Linked DNA regions of Homo sapiens: region 1 is linked to region 2. Evidence: fine-mapped expression QTL. A gene starts in region 2. The other region holds a variant in brackets. All regions are shown on one strand. Distances are between the middles of the regions. Region 1 has its middle 3.7 kb from the start of SUPT20H. Region 2 holds the start of ALG5 (ALG5 dolichyl-phosphate beta-glucosyltransferase).

Region 1 (5,382 bases), 64 kb before region 2:
AGCCCTGACAGCACCAGAGGAGGAAAGCAAGGCTCCTCATGAGTTATTTGCATCACAAGTACCCAACACAGCCAGACTTGGGTGGGTCTCCTCCACCACCACTGTTGGTCACTGAAAGATCACTTAACATGTTACTCTGTGCCTCTTTTTTTCAAGTAAACTGGCAGTTAGATCTAGAGGCTTGATTAAATTCAGATTTAGGATTTTGTAAAAAAAAAATTTCATAAACAGTAATACTATAAAGTACTATTTATATAGTATAGTACATAGCACATAAATAGCACATACATAAAGTGGATCACTATTAAGTTTCCTTTCAACCTTCTACCCATTTGGTTATTTGGTAACCATTAGTAATTATTCCCTAGAAGTATTATTTTCTCACAGGTTGCAAAATGGTGATATTCTATCACTTTTTTATTTATTCACTGGAATTCTTCTATTAAAAAATTTTCCCAGACTGGGCGCAGTGGCTCACGCCTGTAATCTCAGCACTTTGGGAGGCTGAGGCGGGTTAATCGTCTGAGGTCAGGAGTTCAAGACCAGCCTGGACAACATGGTGAAACCCTGTCTCTACTAAAAATACAAAATTAGCTGGGCGTAGTGGTGCATGCCTGTAATCCCAGCTACTCAGGGGGCTGAGGCAGGGGAATACTTAAACCCAGGAGGTAGAGTTTGCAGTGAGCCGAGATTGCACCACCGCACTCCAGCCTGGGCAACAAGAGTGAAACTACGTCTCAAAAAAATAAATAAATAAAAAATAAAGTTTTCCCCTATCAACTCTTTGGTTACTCTGAATTTCAGTTTGTGTAGGAAAGCAAAAAATTTGGTTTAAAAACTTTTTAAAAGCAATTTCAGAATAATGAGTTAGTGCCCTAGCAATCCTCAATGTGACCAGTGAGAGGTTTAATAAAAGCATTGAAATTTATGTATTTTGAAATTTTTGATATATTTCAAACTACTTCAGTCAAAAAAATCTTTCTGATTCTCCTTGATGCTCCAAGTGTCCCTTCTTTTGCCAGTAGGAGCTCTTTCAAATTGGACTCTGTATCATTGCTTACAAACACACACACACACACACACACACACACACACACACATACACACACACACACACAGTCAGAGGATTCAGAACACACATGTCTTCTGCTTCTCTCTAAGACCCCATCTAGTTATCCTCAACTGCTAGTGGATCTGTTCATATTCCAATGGCCAAAATGAGTCACATAGCCACATGCAAAATCACCATGAGGAAGTATACTGTGCCCACACTGAAGCCATGGGAAGGAGAGTGAGAAATAAAAATGTTTTAAAATCCTGTGAACTAACACTACTATCTACCACATTGAATGTGATGGTTAATTTTACATGTCAATTTTTCTAGGCTACAGTACACAATCAAACATTAATCTAGGTCTTGCTGTGAAGGTATTTTGAAGATACATTTAATATCTATAATCAGTTGACTTTAGGTAAAGGAGACTAATCTTGATAATGTGGGTGGAACTTATTCAATTAGCTGAAGGCTGTAAGAGCAAAATCTGAGATTACTCAGAGAAAAAGAAATTCTGCCTCAAGACTGCAGCATCAACTCTTGCCTGAGATTCCAGCCTACTCAGCTGCCCAACAGATTTCAGACTTGCCAGCTTCCATAATCACGTGAGCAAAATATTTAAAATGAAGGGATGGCTCTGGTCAGAGCAATTAACCAAGGAAAAGAAATGAAAGTGTTCAAATTGGGAGAAAAAAAGTATAACTATCTCAGTTCACAGATTACATGATTCTATATATAGAAATCCTAAAGAATATACACATGTAGGCACACATACAAAATTAATAGAGCTAATAAGTAAATGTTCAGAGTACAAGGCCAACACTTGCTATGGTTTGAATATATCCCCCCAAAGGACGTGCTAGAAACTTAACCCATAATGCAACAATGTTGGGTGGTAAGGCCTAATGTAAGTTGTTTAGGTCATGAGGTCTCACCCTCATGAATAGATTAATGCCAATTGTAAAAGAACTTGAGGCTTCAAGTTTGATCCCTTGCTCTCTAGCCCTCTCTTTGTCCTTCCACCATGGGATAACATACATACCAAGTAGGCTCTCACCAGATGCTAGCCCTTCAATCTTAGAATCTTCAGCATCCAGAACCGTGAGCCAATAAACTTCTGTTTATTATATGTTACCCAGTCTGTAGTATTCTGTTACAGCAGCAGAAAATAGACTAAGAGAATACCCCAAAATCAATTGTGTTTCTATACATCAGCAATCACCAATCTGGAAAATTAAAAACAATTTCATTTATAATAGCATTTGCTAAGAACTAAATATGTCCCCTCAAAATTCACATATTGAAGCTCAAACCCCCAGTGTCACTGTATTTGGAGATGGGACCTATATAAGAAGGTAACTGAGGTTAAATTGATCACAAGAGTGGAGTTCTGATGCTATAGATTAGTATCTTTATAAAAAAAAAAAACAACAAAAACGACCAGATATCTTTCTCTGTGTGTTTCTCTGTCTGTTTCCCTTTCCTTCTCCC[G/A]CTTCCTTTATCATATGAGAATGCAGAAAGAAGGTGGCTATCTACTCGCCAGTAAAAGAGCCCTCACCAGAAACCAAATTGGCAAGCACCTTGATCTTGGACTGCACAGCCTCTAGAACTATGAGAAATAAATTTCTGTCGCTTAGGCCATTCAGTTTATGGTATTTTGTTATGGCGGCTTGAGCAAACTAAGATAGATTTTGCTACCAAGAAGTTGCATGTTGCTTTAATAAAACCTAAACATGTGAAAGTGGTTTTGGAACTAGGTAATGGGTAGAGGCTGAAAGAATTCTGAGGTGCATGCTAGAAAAAGCCTAGATTTCCATGCTAGAAATATGGATGTTAAAGGCAATTCTGGTAAGAACTCAGAAATACAGTTGAAGAGAAAGCCTCCATCTTCTTAGAGAAAACATAATCATGAACACAATTTTGGTAAATATATGTTTGTTAAAGGCCATTCTTGTGAGGTCTCAGATGGAAATGAAGAATGGGTCACTGGAAGACAGAAGAAAGGCAGTCCTTGTTATAAAGTAGCAAATAACTTGGCTGACTTGTTTTCTAGTGTTTTCTGGCAGACAGAATTTGTGAATGATAAAATTGAATATTTAACTGAGATTTTTAAGCAAAATGCTGAAAGTGCGACCTGGATCTTCCTGAATGCTTATAGTAAAATGCAAGAAGAGATGAATGAAAGAAGAAATTATTAAGCAAAAAGGAACCAAGACTCAAATATTTGGAAAATTATCTGCCTGTCATGTTGCAGAAAATGAGAAAGTACATTCTAAAGAAAACACCAAAGGTATGGTTAGACTATCATTTGATAAATAAATGATGAGATTATATGAGCAGAAACACTGCCTGTTTCAACTGAAGGGGATGCAGACAAGACAAAAATGACAGAAGGCTTTTACATGTCCTAGATTCTACAGGACAGGACAATAGAGCTATCCAGCTGCTAACTTTGTACTATTCCTTTTTTTTTTTTTTTTTGAGACAGATTCTCACTCCATTGCCCAGGCTAGAGTGCAATGGCGGGATCTCAGCTCACTGCAACTTTCACCTCCCAGGTTCAAGTGATTCTCCTTCCTCAGCCTCCCAAGTAGCTGAGATTATAGGCATGCACCACCAGGCCAGGCTAATTTTTGTATATTTAGTAGAGATGGGGTTTCACTATGTTGTCCAGGCTGGTCTCAAACTCCTGACCTCGTGATCTGCCCACCTTGGCCTCCCAAAGTGTTGGGAGTACAGGCGTGAGCCACCGCACCTGGCCAAACTTGTGCTATTCTTTAAGAAAAGGGGAGAATGACCTCAAAGCAATTCAGATGTTATCAAGGCCATTACCTAGCAAAACTTTTGGGATGAGACTCTGCCTGGAAGAGCATGCCTGGCAGAGTGTGGGGAGAGGTATAGCATCCACCTAGGGTCCAGAAGGCAGGGCCACCACCCTTGTAGGTCTGGAAGGCAGGGCACTGAATCAAAATGGATTATTCTTGAGCCTTAAAATCTACTAGAATTTGCCTTGCTAGATTTTTGGACTTGCTTGGGACCTGTCATCCCTTCCTTTTTGCCTATTTCTTTTATTTCCTTCCTTTCTTGCTCCTATTTTTGTTTGTTTGTTTGTTTGGAATGCCTATTCTATGCCTGTTCTGCCATTGTATTTTGGAAGCAAACAACTTCCCTGGTTTTACAGTTTCATAGCTGGGGAGAAAATTTGCATCAGGATGAATCATATCTCAAGTCTCACCCTTATCTGTTTTAGGTGATATTTAGAAGAGACTTCGGACTTCAGATTTTAGAGTTGATGCTTTTGAGACTGTTGAAGTGGTATGAATGTATTTTGTATTCAATAAGGACATGAATTGCAGGGGTACAGAAGTCTGTTGACCAAATTATATCTCCACAAAATTCATATATGTAACCCCAAACCCCAATGTCACTGTATTGGAGATAAGATCTATAAGGAGGTAATTAAGGTTTAAGAAGATCATAAAGGTGGGGCCCTTATCCAATAGAATTAGTTACTCATAAGAAGAGACATGAAAGCTAGTGTGCTTGCACAATGGATTCTTGGTGATGACACCAAAAGCACAAGTAACAAAATAGATAAATTAGATTTCATCAAAATTAAAAAGGTTTGTACACTGAAGGATATTACAAAGAAAGTGAAAAGACAACCTACAGAATGGGAGAAAGTATCCACCAATGATATATCTCATAAGGGTCTAATATCCAGAATATATGACTACACATAACTAACAACAAAAACACAAACAACTCAATTTAAAAATGGGGAAATACCTGAATAGAGAGTTCTCCAAAGAAGATATACAAATGGCTAACAAGGGCATGAAAAGATGCTCAAGATAACTAGCCATTAGGGAATGCAAATCAAACCCACAATAAAATACCACTTTATACCCTTTGGGATGGTTACTATCAAAGGAATAGAAAATTATGGTGTTAGTGAGGATGTGGAGAAATTGGAATCCCCCGACAATGCTCTTGGTATGTAAAATGAATGGTTCAGCTGCTGTAGAAACATTTGTTTATGGGTTCCTCAAATATTTTCACGTAGAATTACTATAAGACCCAGAAGTTCCACTATGTTTATACCCAAAAGAATTGAAAACAGGGACTCGAACAAATACTTGTATACAAATGTTCATATCATTGCTATTCACAATAGCCCGAAAGTGGAAACAACCCAAATGTCCATCAGTGGATGGACAGGTAAAACTGTGGCATCTAGGTACAGTGGAATAGTAGCCATAAAGAGACATGAAGTACCGATACATGCAACAAGGTGTACAAGGTGAACCTGCAAAAGATTATGCTAC
Region 2 (5,382 bases):
CGCCACTAGATCTTGTTTACGAAGGTTAATTTTAAACCAAGTATATATACTACTATATCGTGTCTTCGGAGTTTATACTCATAGATAACTATTTCAACATAATGGATTTCCTTTGGAATCCTATTTATTTTATCCATTTTTTAAAAACTTTAAGAAAGTCCACTGGCTTCACACACACAAAAACCTTCCAAACGAGGCATGATCCTTTTAGAAATAAATTACGGGAGAGGGAGAAGCAGGCGGTATGTGGTTCTGATGCAACAATCTTGATTGATTGATTCTGACAGAGTCTCACTCTGTCGCCCAGGCTGGAGTGCAGTGGCGCGATCTCGGCTCACTACAACCTCTGCCTCCCGGGTTCAAGCGATTCTCCTGCCTCAGCCTCCTGAGTAGCTGGGACTACAGGCGCCCGCCACCACGCCCGGCTAATTTTTATATTTTTATTAGAGACAGTGTTTCACCATGTACACCAGGCTGGTCTCGAACTCCTGACGTCAGGTGATCCGCCCGCCTCGTCCTCCAAAGTGCTGGGATTACAGGCGTGAACCGCCGCGCCCGGCCACAATCTTTAAAAGATTACAACTATGTCTCCTGGGACTGCACGTTCACTACACACCACGCTCACGAGCGCTCGCAGCGGGTATGGAACTCTACAGAGTCCTTTCATCTCCCGTCTCACTGAGGAAGAAGCCCTTTCTTTTCACTGTGACAACCTCCAGGTCCTCCCGCCCATCGTCTGCCTCGACGAGGAAGGAAATGGCACCCCAACGGGGTCGGCCTCCAGGTGAGAGAATCCCAGCTAAGAGTTAAAGGAAGCTGCCGTCCGCCAGGGTACAGAACTCTACCCGCCACCCGCCAACACTCACTTGAACCCAGCCGCCATCTTCCCGCCCGCGCGTCTGCGCCTGCGCCGCTCCTCTCCTGCGCGCCTGTTCCGCCGCCGCACTTTCGACACGGATGCCGGGGCCGCTCACGCCACGGGAAATGCCAAGGTGGGGACGCGACGAAAGGTCCCTGGCCCGCCCTCGCATCGACTTTCCCCTGCCCAGACGCCTTTCTAGGTTTCCTTGCCTTGGACGTATTTTGACGAATCTGCTGTTAAAGAAGGAGCGGGTCTCCCTCTTTATAAAAGAGCTGGTGCTGTGACTCAGAATAACACCAACAGTTCGGAGATAACAGGGTTTCTAGCGCAGAATCAAGCAGTGCGTGTGGAGCGTTATTCCAATGTTTCTGCGTCTTTTTTCTGCCTGTGACTTAGGCTCAGCCCTGGCCTTGCCTCTTCACTGGTCAAGGGCTCCGTGCTCCAACACATGAGAAACCTGAACTTTTTTTTTTTTTTTTTTTGAGACAGAGTCTCGCTCTGTCGTCCAGGCTGGAGTGCAGTGGCGCGATCTCGGCTCACTGCAAGCTCCGCCTCCCGGGTTCACGCCATTCTCCTGCCTCAGCCTCCCGAGTAGCTGGAACTACAGACGCCCGCCACCGCGCCCCGCTAATTTTTTGTATTTTTAGTACAGACGGGGTTTCACCGTGTTAGCCAGGATGGTCTCGATCTCCTGACCTTGTGATCCGCCCGCCTCGTCCTCCCAAAGTGCTGGGATTACAGGCGTGAGCCACGGCGCTCGGCCGAGAAACCTGAACTTTCTGTGCGCTCATTGTCCGCACCACGTTCTGCTCTGCAGGTCCCGGAGCTGAGGGCTCCTAAGCATCACCTTGTGTTGTAGACTGTGTCGTGCTCAAGGCTGCCATCTCCCTCCTAGGTGGGGTTACCAGATAAAATACAGGATACCACGTTAAATTTGAATGTCTGATAAACACAGCGTGGTTTTTTTGTTTTTTGTTTTTGTTTTTTTGTGGGTTTTTTTTTTTTTAAAGCATGAGTATGCCCCAAATAGAGCATGCAATTAGTTGTTGCCAGAACCTGGAGGGAGCTGGGAAGGCTTTACAGATAGATAGTGGTGATGGTTGCACAGTATGTATGTAATTAATGCCACTCACTATTGTAAACTTAAAATGATTAAAATGGCAACTTTTTATTTTACCACAGTTTATAAAAACTAATGTAATAAACCAGAAACCTGTAACTGGATGAGTCGTATGGTATGTGGCTATCTTAATAAGGCTGTTAAAAACATGATTAGTTTTTTAATCTGAAATTCAAATTAAGTAGACGTCTTGCATACTTGATAAACCTGGCGCCCCGCTGTGGAACCTAGCGCTCCTCTCCACCGACTGGGCGCCGAGGGCACGAGAGCGGCGTTTTCTCCGCCTCGCCACGCGGGGGCGCTGCGGCCAGCGGGCGCGACCTCTCTGGCGGCGGGGCCGGGTCGCGCGGGCGCGCTTCCGCCTGTGTGGAGGTGCGGGATTGGGCGGGCTGCCACGGCATGGAGAATGGCTCCGCTTCTGTTGCAGCTGGCGGTGCTCGGCGCGGCGCTGGCGGCCGCAGCCCTCGTACTGGTGAGAACAGGGATGGGAACCCGCGCAGGCCGGGGCTTACCGCTCTCCTGGAGACTGCGGCTCCTCAGGCGTCCCCTCCTCCGCGCTACCAGTTCTCGGAGAAGTCCCTTTTCCCCTAGATTCCCCCAAATTCCTGACCTCGGAGTTTCCTGGAGTTTCACTCTCCTTTTCTTCGGTTCTTTAATTTTCCCTTGGAATCTTATCTCTTTGTGTGCTCAGAGACTTGTAAGTTTTTTCACACTGGAGCGCACCCACCCGGCCTGGCATCATCGCCGCTTCCATCGCCCCTGGCGCCCGCGCCCCCTACCCACCTCCTCTGTCAACCTCGACCTCTCCCAGACTCTCCGGGACCTGCAGCCGCTGCAGTTCTGCTCCACCCAGGGAGGTCTCGAGCCCCCAGAAGGGGTGTGCTCCCTAGCCTGCTCCCTTGGCTGATGTGGTTAAGCAAATAGGGGTGACGGAGCCTTGACGGCAGCCATCTGTTACAAATGGGAATAAATGCGTGGATCGATGAGACCCACTAGGGACGCAGGGTGAGCGAGAGAGACAGGCCTCAGGCGCCTTGTCCGGGGTCGCATTGTGTCCCAGAATTAAGCACCCTAAATATACTGCCCCTAAACAAGGCAGGACGATAGAATGCAAACTCGATTGTCTTTGCCCTTGCTCTCGAAACACAAAAACATTGTAAACACTTGCTGATTGTTAAGTGGTAGAAAATTGGCGAACTCTCTCCCGCACACCTTGGAATGAGCCTGCCCTCTAGTTAGTAAGTGGAGAGGATTTCAGCTTCCTTGACATTCAGATTAGCCACCTAGACAGCACTGCCAGGAAGGCCACTCTGCCATCTTTCCAGAGGTTGTATAAATTTACAGTTTAGATAAAATGTAATGCATCCTTACTTCTTTGTTGATAGTATCTGGGTGAGAGAGGAGTCCTCTCTTGCCCTAACTAGTAGAGATTTCAGGGTTTAGGGCTTTTTTGTTTTTTCAAGTTTTTGAGCAAACCAGGATTGATTGATTGATTGATTGATTTTTGGCGGGGTGCGGGCGGGGAGTGGATTCACACATTCTTAGATTGAAGCTGCCTTACTTTGGGTCTTTTGCACAGATTTTATGGGATTGTACTGACGGTATTTGTTCCCACTAGCTTGAAGTGATAAGAGCTACCATTTATTGATTGTAGTACTTACTATATGTTGTGTTGCACTTGGTTTAATAGGAGTTATTAAATCTTTAACACTGTGACATATATGTTATCATTAGCATTATTTTACTGGTGAGGAAACATGTTGGAGAAATGAGCTCGTGTACTCAAATGTTGCACAACTAGTGAAACTTAGGTTTTTTAAATGCCAGAGCAAGAAATCATTAAAAAAATAATTTTTCAAAACCTCATCCTGTCTTCATATGTATCCACTCTCCATTACTCACAGTCTCACCTCCTTTCTGAATTATTTTAAAACAACTCGAAGACATTTTATCTTTAAATCCTCAGCATTTATTTCTAACAGATAAGGTCCTTCTTTTTAAAATACCACAATAAAGTGGTCACAGATTTAAATTTATTCTGTGATTTCAAATGCCCCCTCAGTTCACTTGCCCTCACTTGTCTCATATATGTCTCAGTATATATGTCTGTTTGTTCCAATCAGGATCCAAACAAGTGCCACACATTGTACTCTGTTGATGTCTTGAGTCTCTTAATCAGTTGACAGTTTCTCCTCCCCCTTTTTTTCTTTTCCTTGTCTTTTTTTTTTTTTTTTTTTTTTGAGACGGAGTCTGGCTCTTGTCACCCAGGCTGGAGTGCAGTGGTGTGATCTTGGCTCACTGCAACCTCTGCCCTCAAGCAATTCTCCTGCCTCAGCCTCCTGAGTAGCTGGGATTACAGGCGCCTACCACCACTCCCGGTTAATTTTTGTACTTTTAATAGAGATGGGGTTTCGCCATGTTGGCCAGGCTGGTCTCGAACTCCTGAACTCAGGTGATCCACCCTCCTCGGCCTCCCAAACTTCTGGGATTACAGACATGAGCCACCGCGCCCGGCCTTTTTCCTTGTCTTTAATATGATCATTTGTCCTGTAGAACTTCTCACAATTTGGATTTCTTTGATTGCATCCCCTTAATGCCTTTTAACATCTTCTATCTCAAATTTTCTATAAACTGGTAGTTAGGATGGAGAGACCTGATCACATACATACTCGATGTGTTTTTTAATCAAGAAAAAATTGTGAGTGATGCTTCTTCCTTTCTCTTGTGTCTCATCAGGAGTCATGTAATGGCCATTTGTCTCTGGTGTTAAGATGGATCTGTGGTTTCAAATGTTGCCAGCCAGACCCACCAGTTTATAAAGTTTGTCATCAGCCTAATGGTTTTAGTAGTCATTGAGGATCATTACCTAAATGCTTTATTTCATTGCGGGTTGCAAAGTGAAATATTCTCATTGTATCCTTCATTTATTACCTAGAGTTTTGTAATGAAAGAAATCTCATCCTCAGCTATTCATTTACCCTAAAATACCTTTCATACATATAAAACGCAAAAGGCAAATTTTTGAAATGAGATCCTTCCTGCATCTTACCCAGTTTTTGTCTTTAGTATCATTGCAAATTTATGATTTACAGTATTTTTCATGGTTTGATCCATTGCAGTAATTTTTTTTGGCAGGGGGGAAGTGGGAGGACGATCAGATTCTTGCATCATAGGCCACTGAGAGCCCATTCAGGTTGACTACTTTGTCCTTTCAGCACAGCCCTTATAATCTTTGATAATCTTTGATTATAATCTTATAATCTCTGAAGTGATAGTAGTTGATGATGGCAGTAAAGATCAGACCTCAAAGATCAAACCTCAGGAGCTGATGACAATGACAATTTGATAATGTCTTCAAATTGATCATTAAATTACAAATGAATAGCATTCCAAAAATTTA

What was found. PIP is the estimated chance that this variant, and not a neighbour inherited with it, causes the effect.
Region 1: its variant is fine-mapped to the expression of ALG5 in whole blood (TOPMed, PIP 0.98).

What each region holds. Positions count from the first base shown.
Region 1 is chr13:37,060,716-37,066,097 of GRCh38, reverse strand. No RefSeq gene overlaps it. Among named protein-coding and RNA genes, the nearest start is that of SUPT20H, 3.7 kb to the right of the region's middle. The variant G/A (reference allele first, on the strand shown) is at 2,546.
Region 2 is chr13:36,996,307-37,001,688 of GRCh38, reverse strand. It overlaps ALG5 (ALG5 dolichyl-phosphate beta-glucosyltransferase), which reads left to right and starts at 2,349. Exons shown (of 10, transcript NM_013338.5): 1 at 2,349-2,454. The coding sequence starts at 2,389. It overlaps EXOSC8 (exosome component 8), which reads right to left and starts at 903. Exons shown (of 11, transcript NM_181503.3): 1 at 867-903. The coding sequence starts at 883. RefSeq lists enhancers at 334-393, 614-873, 1,074-1,163, 1,624-1,673 and a silencer at 2,134-2,433.